Homo sapiens: one gene and its partner. The protein of the gene in region 1 purifies or fractionates together with the protein of each later gene. This does not show direct contact. Each region holds a gene or a part of one and is shown in the gene's direction. Other genes may lie near its edges.

What was found.
Region 2: the proteins of STAM2 (region 1) and KIF15 fractionate together in Homo sapiens (co-fractionation; one large-scale study listed by BioGRID). This does not show direct contact.

Annotation. Positions count from the first base shown.
Region 1 is NC_000002.12:152,169,264-152,172,763, reverse strand, and holds part of STAM2 (signal transducing adapter molecule 2), read left to right. Parts: intron 1-3,500.
Region 2 is NC_000003.12:44,792,794-44,796,293, forward strand, and holds part of KIF15 (kinesin-like protein KIF15), read left to right. Parts: intron 1-1,423; coding exon 1,424-1,633; intron 1,634-3,500. UniProt on the Homo sapiens protein: Plus-end directed kinesin-like motor enzyme involved in mitotic spindle assembly.

The DNA of each region.
Region 1 (3,500 bases):
GAGTAGCTAGGACTACAGGTGCGCACCACCACACCTGGCTAATTTTTTGTATTTTTAATAGAGATGGAGGTTTCACCATGTTGGCCAGGCTGGTCTTGAACTCCTGCCCTCAAGTGATCTGCCCGCCTCGGCCTCCCAAAGTGTTGAGATTACAGGCGTGAGCCACTGTGCCCAGCCTCCTCCCCCCCTTCTCTGATAGCACTTTCCCAACAGGAAGTAACCACCTTTTGCTAATGTATGATATGGTCATTTTATGATTAAAGGCCTTTAAAGATTAATCTCTTTTGGTAGGTGAAGAGTCTTGCAGGAGGGTGAGCAGTCTTTCTGACAGTCATATGAGGAAGGAATCCTTTTCTCAGGGGCTGAGAAAAGGATGGGTCAAGATGTCTTAGGAAGGCACTCATGAATTGATGATGATATGTGACTTGTCAAATGGAAGCAGGCCAAAGGCTAGGAAGTAGGGAACTCTGGCAAATTCCTGTCTTTTCTTGGCATCAGAACCTACAAGCCCTGAAGGATATACTAGATTTGGTAGTGTTAGAACTCTTTAAACATTTTATCTAGATTCATTTTTTTGTTTTGTTTAATAAGATTTCTTTGATGTGTTCTGAGGGGAAAAAAGAAAATATCCTTAGGTCCCACCTCTTCTCCCCAGCTGGGCCTCAAGTGTTAGAGGGGTACAGGGATCTTGAGGTAGAGCCTGGTTGGAGTAGCCATTCTTGTAGAATTCCAAGGGGAAAGTGAAACATGGGGGACGGGGCCACAGTGGTTAGTGTTAACAGAGAAGATGTCATTTCCTTATTCATTGATTTCCAAGTCATGACTTGTCTGTTCTAAGCCTTAACTCCGGTTCTTGTTTGCATATCTTTTTTCCCTTTACTCAAGCCAGGCAATCTTTCTTGCCAGTTTTCTGCCTCTGTGCTATTTACCATTCATTGCTAAATGTTTGCTCTTTTCAACCTTGGTATTTCCTTTAAAGATACGCTTGTGTCCCACAAAGCTGAGCTCAAATTCTACCTCTACAAAACTCTGTGGACGCAGTGGTTTGAATTGTTAGCTTTTAAGAGAATACATTTCCAAGTGACATTTTAATGTGTGTATTGCTGTGTTTCTGACTTTTGCTGTGTTAGAAGAAGTTGACCAGGAAGTAGCTTGGGACTTTCTCCAGTGAAATGCAGTCATGCAGTCCTTTTCTCCAGTGAAATTTTATAAGAAATCCCAATATAAAAATAGATATTGATAGCATAAGAATAATATAAATTCATAACATACACACAAATTTATAACATTTACTTAACTAGGCCACTCTTTGTACAATAAGTTAAAATCTTTGTAAAAGTAAAAATTTTTTTAAAAAGTTTTTTGGTTTTGAATAAGAATAGTAGACTTAACAGCCAGTTTTTTTTCTAATATATTTTGTAGCTTTTTAAACTATGAAATATTTTCAGCATAAAATAGAAAATATGAACTCCCATTCCTGCCAGGCAATTATGTCAAGTGCTAATATTTTGATATACTTGATTCTTTTTTTTTAAGAAAGGAACATTCAAGATGCAGTGAAATACTTTAGTATTTTTAGCAGCTACCTGATCCCATTCTTCCTCCTTTCTCCGAGTTAAACACTCTATAAATAGATAGAAATTCTCTTTAATAGTATAATACTACACTTACAAATATACTATATATTGTTTGGATGTTTTTAAACTTCTTAAAAATGGTGTCTTTTTGTCATTCTGCAACTTTTGTCATCCAGCATTTCTTCTTTTTTGAGACGGAGTCTTGCTCTGTCGCCCAGGCTGGAGTGCAGTGGTGTAATCTCAGCTCACTGCAACCTCTGCTTCCCAGGTTCAAGCAATTCTTGTGCCTCAGCCTCCCGAGTAGCTGGGGTTACAGGTGCGCACCACCATGCTCGGCTAATTTTGCATTTTTTAGCAGAGATGGGATTTCGCCATGTTGGCCATGCCAGTTTCGAACTCCTGACCTTAGGTGATCTGCCTGCCTTGGCCTCCCAAAGTGCTGGGATTACAGGCGTGAGCCACCGTGCCTGGCCCATTCAGCATTTCTTCGTGAGAGTTATTCATGTTGATGTTTGTAGCTCTAGGTTATAAATTTTAATGGCTGCGTGATACTATACTACTATATGAATATGCATTATCTGTTGTCCTATTGACGAACATGACTTTGTTTTCAATTTCTTGCACCTACAGACAGCTCTGTATTGAAAGTTTTTATCTATGTTTTCTTGTGTTTATGGGTGCAAGATTCTTTTTTTTTTTTTTTTGAGACGGAGTCTTGCCCTGTCACCCAGGCTGGAGTGCAGTGGCGCGATCTCAGCTCGCTGCAACCTCCATCTCCCAGGTTCAAATGATTTTCCTGCCTCAGCCTCCCAAGTAGCTGGGATTACAGACGCCTGCTACCATGCCCAGGTAATTTTTTTTTGTATTTTTAGTAGAGACGGGGTTTCACATGTTGGCCAGGCTGGTCTCGAACTCCTGACCTCGTGATCCGCCCGTCTTGGCCTCCCAAAGTGCTGGGATTACAGATATGAGCCACTGTGCCCAGTGGAGTGCAAAATTCTTAAAGGTTGTCGTCTTGAAGGGGAATTCTTCAGTAGAAGTGTAGCTCTTGGCCTGGTGTGGTGGCTCATGCCTGTAATCCCAGCACTTTGGGAGGCTGAGGTGGACAAATCTTCTGAGGTCAGGAGTTTGAGACCAGCCTGGCCAACATGATGAAACGTGTCTCTACTGAAAATACAAAACTTAGCTGAGTGTGGTGGTGAATGCCTGTCATCTCAGCTACTCGGGAGGCTGAGGTAGAAGAATCACTTGAACCTGGGAGGCGGAGATTGTGCCACTGCACTCCAGCTGGGGCAACAGAGTGAGACTCCATCTCAAAAAAAAAAAAAAAGTGTAGCTCTTGCAAAGTTGCCCTTCCAAGTGTTTGTTGATTTCCCTCCTGTCAGCAGTGAAATTCCTGTTGTTCCACATCCTCACTAATGCTGAGCATTGTCAGATTTTCTAATTTATGCCTATCTGATGAATATGAAGTAAGACATTGTTTTCATTTCATTTTCTATTTCTACTTCATTGCCAGTGAAGATGAGCATTTTTTCATATGTTTCTTCATCATTCTGTTTTCTTTTTCTATAAATTGCCTGCTCATTACTTTTATTATTCTGTTGGGTTACTTTTTAAAAATTGATGGCAGGGTGCAGTGACTCACACCTGCAATCCAAACACTTGGTGGATTGCTTGATCTCAGGAGTTCGAGATCAGTCAGGGCAACATGATGAAACCCCATCTCTACAAAAAATACAAAAATTAGCTGAGCATGGTGGCGCGCACCTGTAGTCCGAGCTACTCGGGAGATGGAGGTGGGAGGATGGCTTGAGCTAGGGAGGTTGAGGCTGCAGTGAGCCATGATTGCATCACTGCACTCCAGCCTGGGTGACAGAGCCAGATCCTGTCTCCCGAACAAAACAAAAAAACGAAACCAAAAAC
Region 2 (3,500 bases), on another chromosome or scaffold:
CCTGGGCCTCCCAAAGTGCTGGAATTACAGGCGTGAGCCACCGTGCCCTGCCAACAGCTATGATTTATTGAGTGAAGGTGCCAAGCACTGTGCTAACTTCTTTTGTATACATTATTTTACTTAATTTTCAATATGCCCTTTGAGATAAAGACACTAATTTCCCCATTTTACCCTATATATACTGTTACCCTCCTACCCAAAATGTGGTCCTCAGAACATCAGCATCACCTGAGAGCTTGTTAGAAATGCAAAATCTCAGGCCCCACCTCACACTGAATCTGAATCTGAATTTTAACAACATCTGTAGATGATTCATATGCACCTAAAACTTATATGTTCTGTTCTATGGGATAGGTACCCATATTCCCATTTTACAAATATGAAGGCTGAGGCTTGAAAAGGTTCAGCTGGCCCCAGACCTCGCCTAGTAAATAGTGGAGCCATGGTTTGAACTCATATGCATCTGATTCCAGAGCCTGCATTCTGAACTTTCATGTATCCTGCTTGCCATAGGGAATAGAAGGGAAAAAATACTTTGTAGACCAAAAGCTTACAAAACTTTGGGCTTAAAGATAATTTACAGATTTTTCCTGTCCAACATTCTCATTTTCTAGGTAAAGAAATGGGTTCAGAGAGGTTTTGTGATTTACATTAGGTTAACACAAATAAAGCGTGGCAAAACCAGTTCTAGATCCTATGCGCTCTGATTTCCTGTTTGTTCTGTTTCTGTAATGTGGAAAGGGAACACAAAGGAAAGGAAAATAACTTCAGCTTATTCCTTAATGGACCAGTAATCTTTCTCACCACCCTTTACAAATTTCCTACTGATTTTGGTGGCTGTTGTGTACCATTTGGAACTTGGGATAATATAATTTATCTTATAAAGCTAGATAACAATGGAAGGCAATAGATACTCCTCACCCCTGTTCTAAATAGAAAATATGCTTTATGTAAATATATTTCTTTTTCCCTATGAAAGTAGATAATTAGCTGTATGTTAGTATTTTTCATAATAAAATGAGTGATTCTCAAGTGCTTATTTTACATTTTAAGTGTACCTATTCTTGTTCCTTTTTTTTTCTCTTTTCCTTTTTTTTTTTTTTTTAAGATAGGATCTTGCCCTGCTGCTCAGGCTGGAGTGCAGTGGCACAATCATGGCTCACTGCAGCCTTGAATTCCTGGGCTCAAGAGATCTTCCCACCTCAGCCTCCCGAGTAGCTAGGACTACAGGTTCCTGCCACTGTACATAGCAAATTATTATTTTTTGTAGAGGTGAGGTCTCACACTATGTAGGTCAGGCTGGTCTTGAATTCCTATCCACAAGTGATCCTCCAGACATGGCCTCCCAAACTGCTAGGATTACAGGCATAAGCCACTGTAACTGGTCCTCTCATTTCTTTTAATATGTTTTCCTTTTGCATAGGTGTTGTCTGGAGGATGGAGGAATAGACGTGTGGCATCAACATCAATGAACAGAGAATCGTCTAGGTCTCATGCCGTCTTTACAATTACAATAGAGTCAATGGAGAAAAGTAATGAGATTGTGAATATACGGACCTCCCTACTCAACCTGGTGGATTTAGCAGGATCTGAAAGGCAAAAAGATACCCATGCAGAAGGGATGAGATTGAAGGTAAGAATGAAATTATGGTCTTCAACTTGTGTGTGAGTTCTTACTAGCAGTCAATACAGTCGTGATGCATGACAGTGTCTCAGTCAATGAGGAACTGCATTTATGATGGGGGTCCCTTAAGAGTATAATAGCTATACCACATGGCTTAGGTATGTTGTAGGCTATACCATCTCGGTTTGCATAAGTATATTCTATGATGCCCACAAAACAATCAAATTTCCTAACAGCACATTTCTTAAAATGTACCCCTGTTAGCCGGGCGCGGTGGCTCACACCTGTAATCCCAGCACTTTGGGAAGCTGAGGCAGGTAGATCACGAGGTCAGGAGATCGAGACCATCCTGGCCAACGTGGTGAAATCCCGTCTCTACTAAAAAAATACAAAAGTCAGCTGGGCGTGGTGATGCGCGCCTGTAGTCCCAGCTACTTGGGAGACTGAGGCAGGAGAATCACTTGAACCTGGGAGGCCGAGGTTGCAGTGAGCTGAGATCGCGCCACTGCACGCCAGTCTGGGTGACAGAGAGAGACTCTGTCTCAGAAAAAAAAATGTATCCGTGTTGTTAACTGATATATGACCATACCAAGCTAAGTGTTTTGAGGGTGGCAAAGAAATAAGAAATTGTTCCTATTGAAAAGGAACAGAGATTTCTTTTGTGGAACAGTGAACATAGATGGGATAGGGCAAGTCTGTCAGTAGCAAAAATGTTTTAATTCATACCAGAGGGGATAAGGGTACAAGAGACAACAGGGGTCAGAGGAAGAAGGGTGCAATATGGACTGCTTGTGGAACATGTGGAAAAGAAGTAGTTCTTGACTTGTGAAGGATTTCGGTAGGGAGAGAGAAACAGGAAATGCATGCCTGGCAGGGGGGCATCTCAAGGGTTATTGTGGATGCAGAATGAGTGTAGCATTTGGCATTTCAGCATGGCTCAATGGATGGGTTGGTTAGAGAGGCAAGCAGGCCCGGATTATCAAGGACCAGGAGTGCCAGGCCAAGTTTGTATCAACTCTGCGAATACTGGGAAACACTTAACATTTCTTAGCAACTAAGTGATTCATGAAGAAAGCCTGTTTTATAGAAACTTAGTCATCTGACCCACTGCTGTTAAGATTTTAGAAGGGAGAGCCCACAGAAAAAGATGACCACTTACGCTGTTTAATATTTCAGGTATGAAGGGTTAAGTATCTAGTCCTAGGCTAAGGTATCAACAGTGGGACCAGAGGTTCTATGTAATATGTATTGTCAATATGTGTTTATATATATATATATATAGTAATACGAATTGTCAATAAAATATTTGTAGAGTCTATAGTTTAGAATATACATGGGCAAGGGGAGAGGAATTGGAAAGGATGAGGGAAGAGATCTACTTTTTTCATTAAAAGTGAGGATTTGAGTCGCCTGACCTACATTTGAGGCAGTTTCAGGCAATCTGAAGCTCATATTTTTTTGTTTTGAGACAGTCTCACTCTGTCACCCAGCTGGAGTGCAGTGGCATGATCTCGGCTTACTGCAACCTCTGCCTCTCTGGTTCAAGCAGTTCTTCTGCCTCAGCCTCCCAAGTAGCTGAGATTACAGGCGCCCACCACCACACCCAGCTAATATTTTGTATTTTTAATAGAGATGGGGTTTCACCATTTTGGCCAGGCTGGTCTTGAACTCCTGACCTCAGGTGATCCACCCTCCTTGGCCTCCCAAAGTGTTGGGATTACAGGCGTTAGCCACCACGCCCAGCCTAAAGCTCATATTTCTATTGAGATATGAGGCTTAATAAATATAGCATATGGGTTGAGCATGGTGGCTTATGCCTGTAATCCTAGCACCTGGGAGGCTGAGGTGGGAGGATCCCTCGAACCCAGGAGGTCGA